3 separate regions of the Homo sapiens genome follow, and regions 1 and 3 are each linked to region 2. Evidence: fine-mapped expression QTL. A gene starts in region 2. Each other region holds a variant in brackets. All regions are shown on one strand. Distances are between the middles of the regions.

Region 1 (8,189 bases), 220 kb before region 2:
TTTGCTATGAGTTCCCCAGTGATGTCCCCGAAGGGACAGTGCCTTTCTTCCTGCATGCTGCACAAGTTATAGCAGCCTTGATCTCCAAAGCACTTCCAGGATTACTGTGTTGGTGGCTGCCTGGTGGCAGAGAAGTTCTCAGGAAAAGCCACAGTTGTGAGTGCCTGAAGAGCAGTGTCTGTGGATACAGTGAAGGGATTTGGAAATAGGAAAATTGTGCAGGCAGAGGTGGGAGAGAAAAACAGAGGGTACCAAGTGGTAGCTGACAGGACTTAACTGAACACACATGAGATACCCATAGGGATTCCCAGACATAAATGAGGGGGCTTTACCTCTACAAAAAGTTGGAGAACTATAATAAGAAATATCTTCAATTGTTAGGGAATCCCACAAGTGTTGCTGTTCTATGAGGGACTTCATTATAGGAACGTGAGCTAACTCCCACGCTCAGAGGACAGTCAGAGATGGTGATGACAATGACAGCAAGGGGAAAGTGGAGCATTTCCTCCCCTGACCCCATCAAAGATAATGCTCTTATGCCTGTGTATGGAGTGGAGAGGGGATGGAAACTTTGAGGCGTGGACACTTTGGGTAGTTGGAGAAGCTGATGGAATTTGTTCCTTAGAGTCAGGGCAGAAGACCCCCATTGCTGTGAATGCAGAGGGATGCATCTCACACTCATACCTGTGGAGTACACAACCCTTGTTATCCTCCTTCATTCTGGGTTGACCTATGAGTGCCCTGCACGATACTCATTTTCACAGCCTTACCTTCATAAAAAATAGCACGTATCATTTACTTCCTAGGGTACACATTTTAGAGCCTGCCTTATATCAACAGTGACTAAGCTAAATTCAGAGGCAGCTAATTGCATGACCTTGGGCAACTCACTTATACCAGTGCTACTCTCACATAAGAATCACTTGGAGATCTCCTTAAACTGTTAATGCCAACCAAGAGTTCTGGGGAAAAGCCTATCCTTGCACCATTTCTTTTAGGTACCCAGGCAATGCCTTTGCTGTTGCTGCTGCTGGTGGTGGACCACACTTTGAATAGCAAGGACCTAATCTCTTTGAGCTCAGTTTCCTCAATGGTAAAACAAAGATAATAATGTTTAAGTTATTATGAGTCAAAATTAAATTGAATAAGATGATGCACTTATCACAGTGCCTAGCAACTGTTTGGTGTTCTGTAATAGTATAAAATATGTTAATACCATGTTAGTTCCGTTTCATGGGAAAAACCACCAGGATATACCATTATCCTTTGATGCGTCTTTATATAAATATTCTGGAACAAATATTCTATTGCAAATTTTCTATCTTACATTTCCAAACATTGCACTATTTCCTTTAAGTGGTTATTTTTGTTGTTTATACAGCCTCTTCCAGTGCAATGAAAAATTATGATCAGTAATAGAATAATAATGTTATTTACTTTTGACATAATAGGGTATATTAATGTTCCTTGTATTCAGACCTCTGGACAAGCTGCAAAAGAAGTCAGGCCATTATTCTTCCCTGGTGGCCTTACCCCTATTCTGGTTTTGTTAGCATGCTAAAATGTTTATTTTGACTTACTTTCTAGAGTTACCTTTTAAGTGTGGAATAACTTAATTATGGATCCCTCAATACTAGTAACAAACTGCTATGAGATTTATGGGTTGTTTTAGACTGAAAGCAAAAACCATAATTGTGCATGTTCTTCCAAATAAGATGATGAAAAACTTTTGACTTTTGTTTATCTTAAAATAGGTTAAAACTTTCTTTAGTACCCATATTAAAGTTTTCCAAACTTGTTTCCCTTTTGAAATTTTATAAAGAAATAATTTTTTAAAAAATTTCAGCATATCTGTACATTTACATTTAATAGTTATTTGACTTATTTCAAGGGATTTTTTTCTTTAATTTCACATCAAATTTTATATATGAGGATAGGTGGAGTATGCCTGAGTAATAACTACTTTAAAATATATGTTTCTTTTAAATCTTGCTGGTATTAAGACAACTGGTGTCTACTTATTCTCCAGGATCTATAAAGCCATGTTCAAGGGTCTTTGTAGGTATAGAGGAAACAAGGAAAACCCCATATGACTCTTTCTCTAGCACTGCAAATCATACAGGTATGTGAAAATAAGGTGATTATTTTTGTAGCCCATAGATTCTCATCTTCCCTGTGGTGGCTTAAGAATTGTCACCATTGTATGTTTCCTAAGAAGTTTTTCATCATCATCTTAGAATGATGATTGCTGTCATTCACTGAATTCTCATCAGATAGTTTTCAGTGCTGGCTATACATTAGGATTACCTACGACCTTTAAAAATTACAACTGTCTGGGCCCTATCCCAGATTGATCAAGTCAGAATCACTGAGGCTTGGGCATTTGTATTTTTTTGTAAGTGTCTCAGGTGATTTTGGTGAACAACAAGGTTTGAAAAACACCCTAATTAGTAGAATCATGTTATTCAAAATTACACATGTTAATTACATATTAGTAAGATGAGATTCATTTTATTATGTAATCATGGTAACAGTTTTGCAAAATCAGCATATTTGGTCACTTTTAAAGCTTTAAGCTTAGAAAGATTAGTTAGCCCAATCAAGGTCACAAAGCCAGGACAAGTGGTAGATTCATGAATCCAAGTCTGTCTGATTCTCAAGTCCGTGCTAGTTCCACTAGGCCGTATTACAAGAAGACAAAAAAAGAAAAAAGGAATGAAAATGAAATGAAAATAAATGATAAAGCAGATATTACTGAATGGCATTATAACAATAGTACATATTGCCTGCCTTCCAGAAAATTTTATTGCAACTTAGGCCCAGGGATACCTAAAATAATCAACATTTAGGAAGAAAGGAACATATGAGATATCCAGAGAAGATGATTTTAGGCATGATAGTAATCATGAAAGATATGTTAAAAAATCAAAAAAGAATGATAGGTAGGACCGGGTGTGGCAGCTCATGTCTCTAATCCCAGCACTTTGGGAGGCCGAGGTGGGTGGGTCCCCTGAGTTCAGGAGTTTGAGACCAGCCTAGTCAACATGGCAAAACCCCGTCTTTACTAACAATTCAAAAATTAGCCAGGAGTAGTGGTGTACACCTGTAATCCCAGCTACTTGGGAGGCTGAGGCAGGAGAATCGCTTGAACCTGGGAGGCACAGGGTGCAGTGAGCCAAGATCGGGCCACTGCACTCCAGCCTGGGTGACAAAGCAAGACTTTGTCTCAAAAAAAAAAAAAAAAAAAAGAATGATAGGTAATAGCACCTTCTGATGCTATAGCAAATATAGTCAAACCCATCTGAAGTGGCTTAATATCCCAAAGTTTCCCAAGAAGACATCAAGATAATGAACGGTTGAAGGCAAACCCTAGCCTAGTCTATGTGTAACACAGGAAGATGGTGTAGTCTACACTAGAGGTCAAAATATCAAGAAAGTGAAAATGAACCATATTTAGCATTATGTTGGGAAGTCAACACCACTACACACATGTATTTAAAATTTGGCATTTCAAATGCCTGACTCTGAAGTTGTCCAATATTCAAAGAGCAAAGCTAGCTATTGCCTTTAGAAACAACACTTTTAAAGCTGATGCTTAGTTGACTTCACTGTGGTCTCATTTTTGGCCATAATTAATCTCATTTGATAAGCCAAGGACTGATTGATTCTTCTAATGGTTACCAAGTGAAATACATGAGAGCTTGAAATAATGCC[G/A]CTAGGATCATTTAAGCATGCTGTTGACACTAAATGAGTCTTCACCCAGTTACCAGGAAACTGATTTAAGACTAAGATTACATCTAGATGAACTCTAACAATTGAATTGCTATGAAAAGGACCCCACCAAGATCATTAAGTCAAACATTCTTTTTCTCTCCAACATCAGTTTCCTGGTTAAAAAAAAAAAAAAGAAGAAGAAAGAAAGAAAGAAAAAACAATCCACATTGACTAAAGCTGAACTAAGGTTAACATTTGTTGGACAACTATCAAGGACATAAATTTCTAAGAAGACTCATAAATATAATAATAGAAAAGATGACTGGCCAGGTGCAGTGGTTCACGCCTATAAAATCCCAGCACTTTGGGTGGCCGAGGCGGTCAGATCACGAGGTCAGGAGTTCAAGACCAGCCTGGCCAAAATAGTGAAATCCCCTCTCTACTAAAAATACAAAAATTGGCCAAGTGTGGTGGCATGCACCTGTAGTCTCAGCTACTCAGGAGGCTGAGGCAGGAGAATCGCTTGAACCAGGGAGGTAGAGGTTGCAGTGAGCCGAGACCACACCATTACCATTGCACTGCAGCCTGGGTGACAGAGAAAAAAAAATTGAACATATGTGAACTCCTTATAGACAGGAACCATATGTGTCCCATGAGATAAGCTATGAGAACTCCTGTATCATCAAATCAAGAGACTCAATATCTAATGACCAGGAATCCCAAAAAAGGACCAGAAAAATAGAAGACAGTAAATTATGTTTTAAAAATAGGAGAAAGCTTCCCAGAACAAAATAACATGAGATTCCAGCTAAATGAGTGGAAAATACCAACAGCCAAGCACATAACAACATGCATTATAGAATACCTGGGACAAAAAGAAGATCCTAAAGACTTTCAGAGAAAGGAATGAGCTATAAAGAAAGGAGAAAGTAGAAAATAAGCATGGCTTATTGTCCAGCAAAACTGATAGATGAAAGATGGCAAGGCAAGGCACTAAACATTGTCGGGAAAGTTTTAAACTTTAGTTAAATTATTTTATCTTAAAATATTTGATACTTCAACTATCAATCAAATATGTGGATACAAGTGAAATCATTTTCAGACATGGAAGTTTGCAAATTACTTACCTCCCATGCATTTTTTTTCTCAAGAGACTTTTAGTGGATATGCTTTACTAAAATGAAAGAATAATCCATGAAAAAGGAAAATATCAGAACCAGCAAAAGAGGAAATTCAACAATAGAGGGAAGGAAAGGCTGGGTGAGCTCACTCGCTCCCTTTGCTTTATAGGGTAGGGTTATAGCTGTCAGGGAGGTTGGGTTATGCTTCTATATAGACCATAGCTAATGCTCTGTGGCCTCCATTATTTATCTTGGTAGCACATTCCTTACCCTGAGAAACACTCAGTAGTTTGATAAACTATAAGAAACATCAATTTTGTCTAAATGGTCCATAAATAATGCAAGTCAACTCAACTTAAGGGCAGATGTACTTTAGAAACTGCTTGGTAGTGCAGTTAATCTGACTTTAACCTGGGAAACACCACCATTTCATATCCCTCAACCATTTACTGAAAGATAAAATGTTGTGGTGGTTTTTCTAAGGCAGTCTTGTCAAAATAGGGTTCAGAACTGATGAGCTTAGCATCACCTGGGACACTTATTAATAATATAGATGATCCAATACTTGTGTACTACCTTACGTACTTGTGATACAAGATGATCTGAGCTCATCTTGGATTTTTCCTGCCCCAATTTTAGAATCAGCCCCTTCTCCAAGTCATCTATATTTTAAAGAGAACATTTCAGGACCTCTACCATTGTAACAAATCAGCAGTGCATAGCTGGAGGTTTCAGAAGAGAGATCTGTTATAAACTCAGGCACCTGTGTTTCTCCTAAATTAGAAATTACAGTCCTGGATGAATCACTAACATTTACTTCAAATCCACTTCCAGAGCCCATCCCAATTACATGCCTCTACATGGAATGGTTACATTGTGGTGATGGAGGCCTTTTCCTGGGTCTGTGTTCCATCAGTTTTGAGGAGAGCATCCAAAATATTTCTGTCGTTCCACACCTCACCTGCATGGGCGGAGTGAGAATCTGATATTGTGGGCATATGTGTACTCCTGCCGCGCACACCTGCACCTGCAGAGATCCCACCTCATTTATATGGGTGAATGAAACCCAGGGCAGTTTGTGTCTATTATTTCACTATCATGGAGATTGGCACTGTAACTTAAAAACCTTGGCACTCTCAAGTGTGAATAGATTCATGTAACATTAGTCAGTCTCCTTTTTGTTTATAAATCATGATAGTATCTATTTCAATCTCTTCCACTTGCATACTGCCAAGACTTATTCAACTGATACGCGTTAGTCAGGCCGAGTACTAAATGAATTAACATTGTAGTAACTTTAGGACATTCAATGCGGTGTGTTTTATTTTAGATAAACAAACTTGCCTATAAACATCCCAAAGTTAAAACATGTTTTTAAAACTAAAATTTGCTAATTAGATGCTCTTTTGTCTGTAGGTAATTTCTTCTGAGTAAATATGCATTCATTGTATTTGAAAATATATGGGGTTGAAAATATTCATTCTCAGGTCCCCTTTTTGTTGGTTTTATCAGTACTTTATTTCATAGAGAAAAGAGATTTATATCTAGTTGCTTGTGTCTCAAATTTGGGGTGTCAAGTAACTTATTTATATTTTTAGCTGTGCCCTGAGTCTTCACTGTTGATGGCTGTTTGATAAATAACATCAAGAAGACCCATCCCTACTCTGCTGTCTTAAAGTATGTATGCAAAGGTGATTCCACAAGCTAGTAAGACTAGTAGATGTTCTTATGTGGCTCAGTAGGGGTTCTCATTTCTCAAAAACAAATTTTTAGAATGTGGTTACCATGTTTTGATGTTTAGAATACGATGTAAAGAGCTTTAATAGACTAACTTCCAGCATTCGGCTTGACATAAAATCACAGTAGTTCAAAGAACCTTCAAATCACGCTGTTGAACTATATTGTAATAAAAAAGGTGTCACAGTTGGGACCTGAGATTTTTCTGTGAGGGACCATGTCTTCCTGACCACACTGGTTTCAGCACAGAGTGGGGCTATTATTAACCAATCAACATAATTCTGATTCAGCCCCCACCGTCAGAAGAGGGGAAGCCTAGGCCAGGAGCAGCAACGGTGGCATATACCTGTAATCCCAGCACCTTGGGAGGCTGAGGCAGGAGGTTCACTTGAGCCCCAGGAGTTTAAGGCAGGCCTGGGAAACATGGTAAGACCATGTTTCTACCAAAAAAAAAAAAATTATAAGTTATCCAGGTGTGGTGGCACATGCCTGAAGTCCTAGCTACTCAGGTGGCTGAGGTGGAAGGATCATTTGAGCCCAGGAGTTCTAGGCTGCAGTGAGCTACGATGGTACCCCTCACTCCAGCCTGGATGACAGAGCAAGACCCCATTTCTTTAAAAAAAAAATAGGGAAACCTAACCCAACTCTAATTCTTCCTCATGGGTCCCAGAATGCCCTAAGCTGGGTTGCTTGTCATCCTAATATTATTCTCACAATCACCAGTCAATAGTCTTCTCTTTTTCCACTCTTGAAATGAATGTCTTAGATTTCTGCTTTCACAACCTGCATTTCTTCTCCCCTGGGAGAGCCTTCTTCTGTTTCTGGCCTGGGTTGTTTGTATACCCAGACCTTGCTCCCTAGATGCCCCCGCCCCTCCCTTCTCACTGTTGTTTTGTCAAGATACTCTTTGGCTGCTAATATTGGCTCTGTGATGTAGAGCCCAATCTGGACATTGTCTTTATAGGTCTTATTTTGGGATATTCATCAATTTGTTCAACAAATATTTATTGAGACACTACTATGAGCAAGCCATTGTTCTAGGGGTCTAAATATTCAGCATAGAAAAGAAAAGCATGAAACCTGTTTCATGGATATTACGTTCTCGTAGGAAGTAAGCAATAAGTAAATAAACACACCGTTATGATTTAGGTAATAATAAATATTTTGAATAAAACTAAAGCAATAGAGACTATCTGGTGTGGGAGAGTAAAAGTGGGAAATTATTTTGGATAAGGTGAATCAGGAAAGGCCTCTATAAGGACGTAACATTTAAGCAGAAACTTGGATGAAATGAGGAAGGAAGCCAGGTGCATATCTAGGGCAGAGCCTGCCAGACAGCAGGGAAAGCCAGTGCAGAGGCCCAGAGGCTGTGGTAGGTTTGGTTTGCTAGAGAAACAGCAAGAAGGTCACAGTAGCTGGAGCAGAAAGGGGGAGACAGAGCAGGAGGAGATGGAGTTGGTGAGGAAGGAGAGCACTTTGTGTAGGCTTTTGTTCCCTTGGCAGAATTTCAGCCTTATTTGGAGAACAGTGGAAATCGGCCAGAGGATTCTGAAGAGTGGAATAATGTGGTCTTCATAGAGCCAGTTGTGGCTTGAAGCCTTCTGTCACTTCTCATTA
Region 2 (8,189 bases):
GACTGGCCTCATAAATCCTTTTTTCCATTAATCAAAATGTTACAGAGGATGTAAACAGTGACCTTTACCATTTATGTTACCAGTTTGCACAGGGAGAGACAGGCCAAAAGTCTGACTGGTAAGAACTTTTACTTTTTGCCAGCATGTCAGCCTTCTGGGTTCCCCTCCTCCAAGATCAATTTTAAGCCAAGCAGTTTAAGGTTTGAGGAAACTAATTTTTCCCAGTTTGGGGGATGCATCCGAGGAAAGCGTCCTGTGTTACAGGGACACAATTACCCATCTGTGAAGAGAGGACAGAGGAGGAAAAAGAAAAAAGAAGTTATCTCTTTTTTTTTTTTTTCCAGAGGAGTCCCAGTGATTCAGGAGGTATTCAAGACTCCTGATAGATTGAAAACTATTGGTTACCCATCTAGGAAGAGGGGAACAAGGCGTCCCTAGTCCTTTTTTCTTTCTGCGAAATATCCAGGGTATGTGAGGGAGAGAGAGAAGAGGCCCCCCTTCCTTCTTCCATCTTCATATCCCCAAGTCCCAGTAACCTCAACAGGGTGCTGCCCATGGGTGCCAATGCTGCTTTTCCCCCCATATTAACAGGGAGGCCTAGGTGGTGATAATTACCTGCATTTAGCCATGTGCTGCCTCCTCCCTGTTTTTGGTAAGCTTTGAGTTCCCTAGACCTCATTTATGCCATGGATACTAGCATGACCTCCATCCATGAAATGATAGGGGGCCTAATTGGCAGGAATTCATCATGCTAAGGAAAAGCTGTGGAGCTGCTTCCTCCTCAAACGAGGGAGAGAAAAGAGTGTCTCGTGTTTAGGGGTCTGGGCCTAATAAGATGTCGTCCGAAAGGAAAAGAAACCTACCTCCTGACATGGTGGAGAAAAGGGGGAAAATAAAATAGCTTAAGTGTAGGGTGGGGAGGATGGTTTGGGGCAGGGGAAAAAAAGGAAGAAAAAAACCTCTTGCTTTATGCAAATGGGTTCTTCTAACAGGGAGAAAAACTCTTAATTGTTGAACCCTCTTCTTGGCTCAGCCAGGGGAGGAAGACTTCATGTGGCGGGAGGGGGCAGTGAATGGGAAACGCTGGCCAGCTCTCCAGCCAGCTGTGTGGGGACTTTGGCCTCCGAGACTGCCTTGGGACCCAAGGCTCATTCCTGCCCTGCCTGGCCATTGGACAGAGCATGCGCATGTGGCCAACTTGGCCATGTGCCCCAGCAGGGGGCATGGGGGGGGTGGTCAGGGAGTCATTGCTTGCCTGTGTGTCCCATATGTACACCCCTAACCATTGAGGTGGGGGTGTGGAATGCCTGTAAGAACGAACAGAAATCACGTTGTTCTGAATTGCATATCTGATGACTGGGCCAAAGGCTCACTCTACCTAGTAATATCTGTGCAGCGTGTAATAATACCCTTAACATTATAAAAGAAGAGATAGGCACCGTGACAATCCCCCAAAAAAGAAGGAAAATGCCATAGAAAAGATTGGATTGGAACGAGGCCGACATTCCCAACCCCCAAGAATGATGGAGGGGTGGTGTCGGGTTCCTCTCCAGCATCCTGTCCTCTGTAGCTGTGCCATTCATTCTTAATTGGCTCACCAGAGGTTCCGTGCTGCATCTGCCTTCAGAAAAAGTCTGAGGACAAGAAGGCACAGAAAGGAAAGAGAAAGGTTTGGGACAGTCTTTGTTTACTCTTTCTCCAGGTATCCCAGGCGAGCACGCAAACTGATGCAGGATTTTTTTGTCCTTAGCTCAGCTAGATCTGTGTTCTTGTCTCATAACCAGGAAAAATTAGGCATGCAGACACTCAAAGAGTGAGTGGTGTAGAATTTATTAAGTAAAAGGAAAGCTCTAAGCAAAGAGGGGGTCCTGAAAGCAGGTTCCTAGTTGCCCCCTTTACAGTTGAATACAAGGGGTTTTACATACAAGCTGATAAGGCTGAGTTCCCTATTTGTATAAGGCACAAATTCCTGGTAGCTCCACCCCATTCTTCCAGTGTGCATGTGGGTCCTTAGTCCTCTGAAGGCATGTTTAGGTAAGTCCTCTATGCAAGTTCCCTTATCTGCACAAAACATGGGTTGGAGGTTCTCTGGGGACCCTTCCTTACTGTCTGCCTAAAGCAAGCTGGCTAACTCCTTTCAAAGTTAACATCAATTGGGTGGCTTAAAACACAGAAATTTATTCTCTCATGATTTTGGAGGTTAGCAAACTGAAATTAAGATTGAGGCCATGCTCCCTGTAGGGGTTCCGGGGGAGAATCCTTCTTTGCCCCTTCCAGCTGCTAGTGGCTGTTGGCATTTCTTGGCTTCTCTGGCTTCCACGTGGCTCCAGTTTGTCTCCGCCTTATATTCACATCACCTTCTCCAGTGTGTGTGTATCTCAAATCTCCCTCTGTTTTTATCATGTGAGTATATTTGCCATTGGGTTTAGGACTCATCTGGATAACCCAGGATGATCTCATCTCAACATATTTAACTTAGTTAAATATAGAGTCTTTTTTTCAAATAAGGTCACATTCACAGATTCTGGGGATTTGCCTCAGGACATATCTTTTGGGGCCACTATTCAACCCACTACATTGCCTCTTTTTGTTATTATCTGTTATGGGTGGAACTGCGTTCTTCTCCGCCCCTGCCAGTTTCACATATTGAAGTCCTAACTCCCAGTACTCTAGAATGTGACCTTATTGGGAAATAGGGTTGTTGCAAATTTAATTAGTAAAGTTAAAATGAGGCCATTAAGGTGAGCTCTAAATCATATATGACTGGTATCTTTATAAAGGATAAATTTTGACACAGACATGAACATAGGGAGAATGCCATATGAAGATTATAGGAGACAGGGGTCATGTGTCTACAAGCCAACAAGAAACCACTGGAAGTAGGTAAGCATCATGGAAAATTCTCTCTCAAAGCCCTCATAAGGAACCAACCCTGCAGACATCTTGATCTTGGTCTTCTAGCCTCCAGAATTATGAAATAATACATTTCTATAGTTTAATCCACCCAGTTTATGTGCATCCTTATGACAGCCTTAGCAAACTAATACATTCTACATATATGAATAGCGTTTTAAATGGTGATAATCAAATTGTGGTTTTGTAATCTATAATTAATGTTGTATTTTATCTATGAACATCCCACTGAAAGTATGCTTTTAATTTCCTACTTTATAAACAACTCGGTAATAAATATGCAACTATGTACATGCGGCATTTCTCTTTTATGGATTATCTCCTTTGAATACATTGTAAGACATGGGAATCTAGGTCCAGAACAAGAAAAAATTTCGTTACTGAACACCTTGGGAATGTGTTGCTAAATTGCTTTCCAACAAAAGCGTGATTACAATTTACCTTCCATCTGCTATCTGTTAAGTGATTTCTATACGTTTTCACCAGCATTTGACATTATCATTTGAAGTGCTGTCACACACATTTTGAAGATACATTCAAATTTATTCTTGAGGAGGGGAGGGGTAACGAAAAATACTATAAATTTGGTTGTAACTTTTTTTCTGTCTCTTGCATTCAGGCGGTCACCAGAGGAAATTAGTCAGTGCCTTTAGGCTACACTTAGCTTAACACATTTCATTAAAGAGCCCAGTAGTAGAGAATTCAAGATGGGTGTTATTATTTTAATTTCATGAAATCACTCCTTAATTCTAACTTTCAAAAGTCAAATTTTATTTCTTTAATTGCATGTGGATTGTTATAATGAGGAGAATCAGAACAGCTTATAGGACAATATTTCTTTTCTATTTTTCTTAACACACCATATTTATTTGGAAATTTACCTCCTACATTGTCCAGGGAATTAGGATGGGCGTTGGCCGTTTTTCAGCACTTCCTGGTTGAGGCCAAGGGCTCCACTCACGTGCCTGTCCATCCCTCTACAAGGCTTCCCTGGCAGCTTGTTTTTCCGTTTAAAATTTAACAATGACCAAATCCCAAAAAAGCTACCAGGCTAAGAAATGAAACATCTTTTTTTCTTTTAAGTCCGGAGAAGTGCTGCTGAGCACAGCTGGCTCACTGCTGTTTCTGCGGCCCCCATCTCTGATCCTTTCTAGTCTCCTACCCACCCCCACCCCACCATAGGCAGGCAGAGCCGGATTTCTGCCCTTCAAACCCCGAGTGTGAGGAAGCCTCACCTGAAGTCCTCGCATCACCCTCCACCCTCACGCCCTTGGGTTTTAAAAAGCCACTGCGTTCGTGGGTCACTGCAGGGCGCCTCCGCAATGTCTTTAGCAGATACAAGAGCATCCCTCCCACGGGATGTGCAGTGTAGTCAAGCTGAGTAAACTGGGATTTTTGGCTGCCTTTTCTGCTAGGGTGGGTGGGGAAAGGTATGTCCCCCAAGCGTTCAGTTCAGACTAGAACCTTTGAATCTCTCTCCTGTCTCGGTCTCTCCCTCCACCCCCCTACCCCGCCACCTTTCACGGTGTGGGAGTTCTCCTTTCCCACACCAGAGAGGGGCGCCTTTCTAGCTTCCTTGTCCCCTCGCCCACTGATTAAAAAATGGAGAAAAAAACCAACCCCAAAACCCAAAACAAAACAAAACAAAAGCCCCAAACAAACAAACAAACCAAACCCACCGAAACCAAAACCAACTCCCCTCCCCCAAACCACACAAATGCGGGAGTCATAGCCAGTGGATCCGCTGGTGCTGAACGAATGGAAGCGCGGGGCGGGCCTGCGCGCGCGGCCGCCCTGCCCACGATGCTGTCGCCCCCGCGACCTGTAGGGCCTTCGCTGGCCCCTCACCCTCCTCCCGCCCCGGGCTGAGGCTGCCGCCGGTTTCGCGCCCAGTGCCGAGGCAGCGGCGGAGCCGGGGAAGGTCGGAGGGAGGGTGGTTTCCTCCCGCCCCACACCCAGTCTCCGAGCCGGATATATAGAGTGTCACGTTTGGGAGCCGAAAGACTGGAGCCGTTTCCTTGTGGCTGGAGCGCTTCCCGTAGCCTCGGGGAAGGAGCAGGATTTAGAGGACCACTAGTTGGACCCCATCCTCGTGCTGGAGGAACAGGTATTCCAGGGTCCCCAGCCCTGGCGCTCGCAGAGCCCACGCGCTCCAAAAGCAGAGACCGGACTGGGGGTGGCCCAGGAGGGAGGGCTCGGCTGGGTTCGCAGGGCGGGGCGGTTCCCGGCGGGACCTCGAGGAGGGTGGGTGTGAGGCCGGGTGGGAGGAGAGAAGCATTTGCGGAGGCTCTGCCCCCTGAAGCTGCCCCCGGCTGCACCCCAATCGTCACCGGCCGTTTACGCGCGGTTGGCGTCGGCGGAGCCCGCCAAGGTGGGGCGCGCGGGGGTTGCAAAGGGCAGAAAGCCGGGAAGGACCCAGCAAGGTTAATGTGGGGGGCCGCGCCTTGGGGACTGGGGACCCGGGAAGAGAGGCGCGGGGCCGAGTCCCACCCAGGCCTCCTGGGCCCTTGGGGCTATTCCTGGAGAGAGCGCGAAAATGCCGGGGCCACGTGTGAAACGGCAGCGGTCCTAGGTCCCCTCCCGGTGCCTGGGACCGCCAGGGCGCCCAGTCCTGGTCCCCGGAGCAGGTCCTCGCCAGCCCCCAGCCCCACCCCAGGCTGCGCACGTCCCTACCCTCCCACCTGGGCCTCGCCGGGGTCGTGGCTGACGCGCGCTGGGGCGACTGGTGAGGCCAGGGCGGGCTTTGCCCCTGTAGGAAGTTTTAGACATCTTCCTGCGGCCTGGGCATCCTGGGGGTGTGCAGGGGAGCAGGTGCCAGCAGACTCCCAACTGGAGTAGATGGCTTGCAGGAAGGCTGCTCAACACTCCTAGCAAGTAGAATTACCCGCGGGGCAGTCTCAGTCTATTAAAACAATTCATGCCCAATCGTATCCTACAAACCAGAGGAAGGCGTCTCACCTGCCAGCGGTGGCACCATTTCTTCCACGGTTGAGTTATGTGGTGTGAGCAACCAAGGTTATCGCTGGATCTGCAAGAGTTTGGCCACTCGTTGAATCACGTAAAGTGCCCCCATTATGTGATGAGCAAGGACAGAGTAGGGTCAGAAAAGTGACCAGGGAATTCAGGTAGATCGTGCTTTTCTGTTTGCTAGGTTGAGAGAAATTTGACACTGGGCAAATGGAAATTTGAGAATTACCCCGTGGTTTCAATTACCCATCTCTGTATATTCCCATTTATAAGAGCTGGAGATTTGACTGACAGGTGTAGTTAGTCCAAAATTTAGAAAGGGGGGCAAGGGACTAAATAAAAACTTAAGGCAGCCACCTAAACTGCAAGAGCAGGCATTTCCGCAGAAGGGATATTTGTGTGTGAGACTTCTAGGAGATGGGCATGAGGTTTTTACCAGGCCGACGCGTGTGTCAATATTTCATCGGTAGTATTTCTCAGGATCCACGTCTTTACAGTACTCTTTTCCTAATTCTGAGGGCTGCTTCTGCCCCTGCTGTATTAACAAATTCCTCACTTACTCCTATTTCTAACATTGGGCTATAATTATCTATAAAAGAGATGTAAATCACCATGAGTTGGTAAATCATACAGCTATTAGAGAAATTAAAGTAAATGAAAATATGCTTTCCTTAAAGGAAGCTAAAATGTGACATCCAGTTACAGAGGAAGAGGGAGAGGTTGAAAATAAATAAAATGGCTTATATTAGGGTATCACTTTGGGGTTTATAAAGCATATGATCATCTTGACCATCTCACCATCTGCTTTCCTATCTCCTGAGGAAGAAGCATTCTTGAGTGCATTTGTTTCTGGCAACGTCTCATCAGTGTTAAGAATTCCTTGATTTTGCATTAATTCCCATGCACTCATGAAAACTTACTTATTCACAAATATAGCCTTGTGAAGGATCATGCACAGTGACCACCAGCATGCTTGTCCCTACCAATATATTCTGACATTGTAGGCTCTGTTGGAACATGTATTACCTTTGAAGAGGGTAACAGACCAATTTGAGAATCTGATGAAAGCTATGGAATATGAAAGACAAATGCATACATATTAACACAAAATTCCACCTACAATTTCAGGAGTTCATGGCCTCCTTGATGCCCAGCCTCCTACATTCTAGATGTCCAGAGGCTCCAGGCAGGGCCAGCTTCATGGAAATACAAAACTGCAACCGCACAGGGCCTTGCACTTGGAAGGGCCCTGCGTTTGGTAATGTTCTGCTATCACCGTCTGCTGGCTTAATAATTTTCAAAGAGGCTCTGGATCTTCATTTTGAACTGGGTCCTACAAATTATATCCTGACCCCAGGCTGACAAACTTGGTCTAAAACTAACCAAATAACAGTGTTTGAACAGCAATCCCACATTTACGGTGAGTTCTCCAGTACAAACCTGAAATTTATCTGCTGCTCACTTAGGTGCTCTTGGACATGTCATTCAGTCTTCCTACATTTCAGTTTCCTCATTGACAAAATAAAGACAACAGATGACACCTTCTACTTTCTTTATTTTCAAGGTTGTACTATCTCTAAGTAAAAAGAGGTAATAATTGTAAAAAATGTCTACTTGCTTTGAATAGTTCTTTTCTAAAAAATATGCTGTTGTTGAAGGGTTAAACTTTGCCCTCCATTTTTCAGAAGTAGCTTGAGGAAGGTTGATTGAGCACACTGAAAAGACTGTAGAACCTTTCTGACCCTTATAGTTTGGTGGAAAATAAAACAAAAAGTAGGCAAGTATTCAGTGTGTTAAATACTCCTGAAATATCATTATTTGGACAAAATTAGAATTTTCAACTAAAGGTGCAGAATAACTTCTTGGATCCCAAAGGTAGTTATTGAATTAAATTAATGTTTGGGTCTAATTCATCCAAACGTCGAACGGTGAGAAAATGAGCCAATGACTGAAATTTTTTGAGGGGGTAATCCTTTTTGTTTCATTTAATTTAAAAAATCTGTAAGTTCAAAAGTTTGATCAAGTCATCCTTTAAAATATCCTAGGAAATGCCAAATCAATTTAAAGTACACCTAGTCTCTTGCCAAATACACCTAGTGACCTTTTGTAACTCTGGTGCCTCTTAAAGAGGAACTGAGAAAACAGGCAAGTCCTCTGTCCCCAGACTCCTCCCTTAACTACTCTCTGACCTCAAAACTTATCTTTATTCCAGCTGTCCTTGTTAGCATGATGGCAATACACTCAGAACCACTGAGGAATAAAATAGTGTGAAAGGGAATTGATCAAACTCCTTTATTAAGGTCTTCTAA
Region 3 (8,189 bases), 170 kb before region 2:
TTGACAGTGTCAGCTTGACCTGTAGCCTCTAATCAGCCTGAGAATTATGCCTTCCCTGGTTTTTACCTAGTCTCTTCATTTCTTTTACTGTACATACTTCTGGAAACAGTCCACTTGCCTAGCTTGAAGTACCTACCACTCTGATTTTTCGCAACAACAAATTGAATTCCATAGTTGATTTATCATATCAATATTGCATCATCAAGATATGCTTCAGCATAAAAGGAAGGGTCAAGGAACATAGAGACTTCTAACTGTCATTTTAGTAAATGCATAATAAGGCTAGAAAAAGAGAAGAAATATCTACTCATTTCTTGACCAAGTTTATTAGCTGGTGACTTCAGTTAACATTTAACTCCAGGTTTCTCTTACATTTTTAATGTTTTCTTTCTTTTGTTTTACATTTTTGATGTAAGAAAGAAGACTCCAGTTTTTTTGCACTGTGTGAAATCCAGCTCTAATTATGTCCGTATGACATCATAAATCCACTAAGAATTGGACAGTTTTATTATTTGGGCCTTAAAAGAACACCCAAAATAAAGGTTAATGCTTATATAATGGTAATTATATAAGGACATATCCTCAAAATGAACAAACAGAAAACCCCACATAATACTTAGGATTTTCCCTTCTTCTTATAAATGGGAAAAATTAATTGACATGTCACTAACTTCTAAGAAGGGAGCAAATATTTAAATCCCTGCTTCTTCTTCCATAGGCATAGGCTGCATTGCATTTCCTTGCTGTACTCACTTTTGCCTCTTTCTCTCTGTGACTTTTTCTCTGTATATTCCTCCCTCTTTTCTTCTCCTTCTCTACTCCCATAAATCCATATCTTTTGGCTCTAGGGCATAGTTTTATTGGCTTCTATTTTTCTGCCCTCAATAACAATGCTTCTCTTGTCTCTGTGTACATTATATTCTTGAGATAAAGAGCTTTCTTTGTAAACTTAAAATATATTTACTGTTACAGACAAGAAATATGCTCGATTTATGTATCCTACAGTTATGAAGAAATGTGCATAGTGTTCAGAAACGTAGTTAGAATTTCTCAAATTTCCCCTGTGCTTTTATGATGAAATTTTGTCTATCCTAAAAGCCATCTTTTGTAACAGCCATGGTCCAGCCCTGAAGGATAATACAGGCAAGGAAAAGTTAGAGGTGAATGTACCTAGTTTAATCTGTAAAGAAATCCCCTACCACAGTGTTTCCTTTCCAACACGAGTATTCATGATCAGAGGAGGCAGTGTTGAGGGTTGGATGAATCATAGTCTTTGGTATAGACAGACTAGACTTCAAACATTGGCACTGCTACTTACCAACTCTGAAATCATGGTTGAGATCATTTCTCTTTGCCTCAGTTTTCTTCTAATGCCTATCCTCTAATACTGTGGTGAAGATTAATGAGAAATTGCATGTGCAGTGTCAATACAATGCCTGTTACAGACTATGTGCTTTATGGAGCTGAAATATGATGGAAATTTTTTTTTCATTGATGGTAAAGAGCAACATGAAAACAGGTCATGCTAACTTAAATAGCACAACTTCTACAGGTTAACTTCAAGAGATAGGGTCTTGATTTCAATCTTAGCTGAATTATTTTCATTATTTTGATTATAGGCTCTGGCTTTGGAAGGCCTTACTCCATACAAGAAGTATTTTTTTGAATGAAGACAGTACCTACAGTGGTGACTATTTGGTTAATGGTAAAATACCACAGTCATCATAATGTACTAAGCATACTGGCATCCCAGTAGTGAACATCGGGGGTTCTATTTCATTGTTTCTATAACTTCACATGAAAAGCTAGCTGAGCTCATTGGAAAGCCTTGCTTACTAACCCAGAACGTCATCAATGTACCCCAGAAATCAGCATTATTCCTGTTTTCCAGGTTGTATGGATGCATTTAAGAACCACAGTTGAAGTTATAATGTGGCATCCAACACTTTTCTCATCAGCTCCAGATCCCTCAAGGGTTTGTATTTTTAAAGCTTGAATAGTCCACAAAATCACAAGTACTGATTACAGCTAATCCTTGCTAATCACCAGTGCTTTCATGGAAGTAGTGCTGCTACCCATCCTTGGATGTATTCACTACCATAGTTATTTTTTTCATGTCATGGAGCATTAAATGCTCCATATTTCCTGTCAAAACAAAGTGAACATCTCTTTGCCCCTTTTGGATTTAGCTATGAAATGGGTTCCAAAACAACTCCAGCTTATCACCTAATATTGAACAGATATTTTGGTGAAAACAGTGCTTATTGATTTCACTTCATATGCCCATTGCATTGGACTCAAGCAAAAGTTTGGTAGAGGTTCAGATTGATTAAGGAAGGAAATGCTAATCCAAGAGAACAGAAAAGAAATTATCACTGTCACTACCACTCTCACCATGAAGGCCCTGTTATTCCATCAGCCTTAGCTGACACTCTTTCCATTAAAGCTCTTTTCCAAGAGGGTCCTCATGCATACCTGCAATATAGTCTTTGCAACTGATATCTGTAATATAGTCATGTATCTGCTACACATGATTAGATGCATCTGAATCCCATCAAGAAACCTGATTAAGACTGAAGGTTGGACACTTATATCATTAGTTCCTTTGAAGAAGATGACTGAAGAAAGATATTTCAGACAAAGTTGATCTTTTTTTGATACTCATTGGTTCATTCATACTTGGCAAAAATATAATAAACTCTTCAATTAATAAAGTAGTAGAGAATTCAGCTCAATCTTTCCACTGGTGACAACTGGAAAAGCTGTACAACAAATGTGTTATAAAAGTTTGCCTGAAAGTATCAAAGTGCTAATAAGGTGGTTCTTCAAGGTGCAATAATTACACTTCTCAATTGAAAACATAGAAACCAGAAGAGTGTGAAATAATAAAGAAATAGTTGCCAACCTAAAATTCTATACCCAGAGAAAATAGCCTTTAAGACTAAAATAAAATAAAGCCATTTCAGACAAAAATAATTGTCTCTTGCTCACACACACTAAAGGGTTTCTTAGAGGGAAACCAATTTCCAAAGGAAGCTCAAAGAAGGAAGAAGGAAAGGTAGCAAAGTTAGTAGTAAATACAGTGATCAACATAACTTATTTGACTATCTAATTATAATAATGTTTCATGTGGGTGAAGACATGTAAACTATAAATACATATAATATACATACTAATAAAGGCATGCAAGTCAATAGTGAGGAAAATTAAAGAAAATCACTATGGTTTAAGGGAAAAGAGGTACATGTAAATTAATATTCAATGCATTTAAATCATTAAATGCATATTATAAA[C/T]GCCAGAATGGTTGCAACTATAAGAATGGGGAGATTATGTCATATAAATACTAGCCAAAAGAAAGGTGATATATCAGACAAATTTATTCAATATCAAAAAATGTAGGTTATATAAGAAAAAAGTACTATAAAAGATAATGTTCTTATGATAAAATGTTTAATTCACAAGGAATGTATATATCAATTATAAGTTTTATGCACCAAGGAACATAGCCTCAAAATATATTTTAAACACTTAACAGAAAGTGAAATAGATGAGTTCATAATTATAGTGGGGAGATTTTAACACACTACTCTCAGCAAATAATCCATTAGAATCCATTAGTGGATTAGTGAATAACACAATAAATATTAAATAAATAAACACTGTAAATAAATATAGCAAGCAAAAAAAGCCAGTAAAGAAACTTTAGCATCTGGCTAGGAGCATCTGTGGTGGCTCACCTTTCTACCTATACGTGTGAGTGGGTGACCTGAGAGGAGTACGGTGAGCATATGAGGATGTGACATACTGGCTCACTCCTGAGAACAGGATCCTGTTAGATGGGCATGTGTAAGTTAATTTCAGCAAAATGCTCTGGGCAAGGGTAGAATGGGGTGGGGTGGGTTTAGTTTGCTTTGGAATTCTGGGGGCATGAGGGTATTTTTTAGATTCTAGGGTTTTATCTTGTTTCAAGAGTGGGACCAACCCAAGGGGGAGGACAAGATGTCATCCTTGGAAACCCTACAGGGGACAGTTTTTCCAAGGTGACCTGTCATTGGGGTATGAGTGGCTAGCTGCCACCTTCATGCCTGATTGCCACTGGTTTTTCATTGGCATCTCCCTTGGTTTGTCTCATTCTTCTTGGTTCAGTAGGTTTTAACTGGGGTAACCCTTCTGGTAGGAGTTCCAATTATTTTTGACTAGGGGATGGGGGAGAGTTGACATTTCTGGTCCTATAGGCCCTTTCTGGCCAGGAAGGCATTGGTGCAGGTGAGCCTGGGATGCCCTTGCCACCTGTGGCCAGAGTCTTGTTTTGTATCTGTAAATAAAAAGCTTGTTTGGAAGCAAACAAACAAATGAAAAGGTGTAGAATGTATGGATAACATGATTAACCAGTTTAACTAATTCACTAGAACATTGTGTCCAACCACTACTGAATACACATATTTTTGTGCACATATGGAAAATTAAGAAAAATTGATTGAAATGAGGAGTAACATAAAATATAAATTATATTGCATTCAATTGCTACAAATAAAAACGGAAATTAAATTTTAAAGATGGCATTTGTTATTTTCAAAATACCAAATTCCTAGGAATAAATCTAAATAAAGCCTCATAAGACCTCTACACAGAAATGTATCAAGGAATAGCACAAACATTAAAGTAAGCATAAATAAATAGAAACAAAAGGATGAATAATGTTGCATGTCAATTCTCCCCAAATTGATCTTAATGATTTAGTGGAATTCCCCCAACATCCTAAAGGAGTTTTTTGAATAATTTTGGTGGATCTTGACAAGTTGCTAAAATTTATATCAAAAGTTTAAGAAAGCCAGGGCTATACAAGGCCTAGGCAAGAGGATTGCATGAGCTCAGAAGTTCAAGGCCAGCCTGGACAACATAGCAAGACCTCATCCAAAAAAATCAACCAGGTGTAGTGGCATGTGTTTGTAATCTCAGCTACTCAGTAGGCTGAGTTGGGAAGATCTCTTAAGCCCAGAAGGTCGCCTAAGCCTGGAAGATCGCTTAAGCCCGGATCGAGGCTGCAGTGAGCTGTGATCATGTCACTGCACTGCAGGCTGGGAAACAGAGAACCTCTCTCAAAAAAAAAAAAAATAATAATAATAATAATAATAATAATAATTAAGGACATTAAATAGTAATAGTAATTAAGACAGCATGATATTTTCTCAAGGAATCAAAGATAACCAAGGGAAAAAAAGTAGAGTCTACATATGTGGACTATAGAGTTAAGACAAAGGTGGCACTATACAACCATGGAAAAACGATAATCTTTTTAATAAGTACTGCTGGGACAATTGGATACACGTGGACAAAATGAAACATTCTCTACGTCAGAGTACATGCAAATATGTATTTCAGGTGGATTGTAGATCTTTGTGAAAGGCAAAACAATAACGTTTCTACTGGAGAGTATATTCATTACCTAAGGGAAGGAAAGATTTCATAATCAGGACATAAAAATCATTATCCTTGAAAGAAATTATTAATAAATTGTACTATATTAGAACGAAAAATTCTATTTCTCAAATGACACCATTAAGAAAGTGGGAAAGGCAAGACACTAAGAGAGAGAAGACATTTACAATCCTTAAAACTGACAAAGGGCTCCTATCCGGAAGGTACAGAGAAGTTTTACGCATCAGTAAGATAGCCTATTTGATGAAAAACAGCCAAAGTCATACTTCACAAAGGAGGTTATACAAAGGGCCAATAAACATAAGAAAAAAAGCTCAACGTCACTGTCATCAGGGAAATGCAAATTAAAACCACAATGCGATACCATTACACACTTGCCAGAATGGCTAAAATGAAAAAGACTCACAATAACATTGCTGATGAGGATGTGGAACAACTGGAACTCATTGCTGGTGGAAGTGTGAAGCATATAACCACTTTGGAAAACTGGCAGTATCTGCTAAAACTGAGCATGTTCATACCTCATAATCCAGTAATTCCACTCCAACAGAAATGCAAGGACTTATGAACTAAAATACAAGTACAAGAATATTGATCACAGCACTATTCATCACAGCCCCCAAATAAAAACTGTTCAATGTCCCATTATGGTATATTCATCCCAGAGAAATCTAGTCATCTTTGAAAACAAATGAACTACAGCTTCACACACAGAGTAAATGATCTTAACAAATATATTGTTGAGTAGAAAAAGTCAGATATGAAAGAATATATACTGTATCACATGGTGTATATATGTGCATGTATATATATTATTATATAATATCTATATATTAATTTATAGACATATATATATTAAAACCAGGCAAAACTAAATGAGTAACGTAGTTTTAGTAGTCAGGATACTCACAGAAGAAATGACCAGATGTTTTCTAGATTATCAGATATCTCAAGGTTTCTTGAAGTAATTCAGAAAAATAAATCAATCTTGATCATTGAATGAATAAAAAATACTCTTTCACTTTGATAAAATCTAAAGTAGGTCGATAGATCTTTTCCCCAGAGGGAACTGTGCAAGCTTGGTCAGCAGGCTTAGGAAAAGAAAAGAGTGTGATAATACTTTTGTATCAAAGTATATGGCTCCAATTCTTGATTCTACCTTTTACTAGCTGTGAAATTATGAGCAAGTTACTTGGCTTTCTCTGTGTCTCAATAAATCTGTAAAAAGAGAATGATAACATTAACCTGACAGAATAAGACAAAGATGAATTAATTTATACAGTAAATTAAATGATGAAATGTAGGCAAAATCTGTGAAGCACCTAGGATTTAATAGGTACTTCAAAAGTAAGTGATAGGGCCAGGTGTGGTGGCTCATGCCTGTAATCCCAGCACTTTGGGAAGCCAAGGCAGACGGATCACGAGGTCAGGTGCTTGAGACTCAGCCTGGCCAACACAGTGAAACCCCATCTCTACTAAAAATACAAAAAAAAAAATTAGCCAGGTGTGGTGGCAGGCGCCTGTAGTCCCAGCTACTTGGGGGAGCTGAAGCAGGAGAATTGCTTGAACCCGGGAGGTGGATGTTACAGTGAGCCAAGATTGAGCCACTGCACTCCAACCTAGGCAACAGAGTGAGACTCCATCTGAAAAATAAATAAATAAATAAAGTGATAGAACTGTTATATACACTTGTGTGTTTTAACAGTTGAGTTCATGGAAAGGAAGAGAACTAATATTCTCTGAGTCCATTATGCTTCAGATACTATGTCAACCAGTTTTTACATTTCCATTTAATCCACAAAATAACACTGTTCAGTACAGATAATTCCTAATTGATCATATTAGAGAAGCATATGTTGGCCAGGTTAAGTAATTTGCTCAAGATCAGACAGCTAGTTTTGAAATAAAGGTCTCCCTGCTATAAATAATTTGAATGTCACATATATGGCAGTAAAATTTAACATTTTTTGCAATGTATCTGCCCTTCTGTTTTATATAATCAACTCCTCTCTCCACACTCCCTACTTTTTTCAGGATTAGGAAAATTCTTGGACTCCATTTCTTCACTTGGTGTTACATTTCTTGCCTAATCAGTATCTGAGTAGCGAATCTCTCCCTAACCCTCAATGAGTTCCTTATGGATCTCTACCTACAATTAGATCAACAGGTGAAATTGATAGAAGAAGACATTCTACTAGTGGCTTTTTATATGTTCCCCTCTAGGGAATGAGGGTATATGGCTTTACACCTTAGAGAAGTTACATTTATCTGTCCCTGAGTCACCACTACCCCTCCTGACACACATCTCTTTGTTGTTAGGGGATTGATTTAAATTCACCTCTAAGTTCAGTTGAAAGCTTGAACAATAGTGAAGTGCAAGTATCCCCAGGACCCCACCAAGGAGCCAAATTCAAAGAAACAGAAACCAAGACCAAAAGCCATGGCGTAGAGAGTCCTTTTCATTTCTATGAGATCAAAAGAAATGCAGTATTTTGCTTCTATGAGAAGTAAGGAATGCAAGCTTGAGGGAGCAAACTCTATAAAGTGTTCAGAGCTGTCCCAGTGGTGAGGTAAAAGGGAAAGCAATTATGGCATCCGCTCCTTGGCTGAGGTTGCTCTCCAGAAAAGGCTGCCCGGTCCTCCTGTGGAGAGAGAAAGGAGGAGTGAGCGCTCATATCTTACAAGCATAACCCTAGTGGAGACTGACGCAGAGCTGTAAAAATGAATGCCCTAATTTTGGCTTCTTGAAG

What was found.
Region 1: its variant is fine-mapped to the expression of FAR2 in cerebellar hemisphere (GTEx, PIP above 0.99). The same link has a PIP of 0.9 or more in cerebellum.
Region 3: its variant is fine-mapped to the expression of FAR2 in whole blood (TOPMed, PIP above 0.99).

Annotation. Positions count from the first base shown.
Region 1 is chr12:28,928,358-28,936,546 of GRCh38, forward strand. No RefSeq gene overlaps it. Among named protein-coding and RNA genes, the nearest start is that of FAR2, 220 kb to the right of the region's middle. The variant G/A (reference allele first, on the strand shown) is at 3,715.
Region 2 is chr12:29,144,388-29,152,576 of GRCh38, forward strand. FAR2 (fatty acyl-CoA reductase 2) reads left to right here and starts at 4,891. Exons shown (of 12, transcript NM_001271783.2): 1 at 4,891-5,020. RefSeq lists an enhancer at 1,316-1,817 and silencers at 4,739-4,798, 5,109-5,258.
Region 3 is chr12:28,974,889-28,983,077 of GRCh38, forward strand. No RefSeq gene overlaps it. Among named protein-coding and RNA genes, the nearest start is that of FAR2, 170 kb to the right of the region's middle. The variant C/T (reference allele first, on the strand shown) is at 3,294.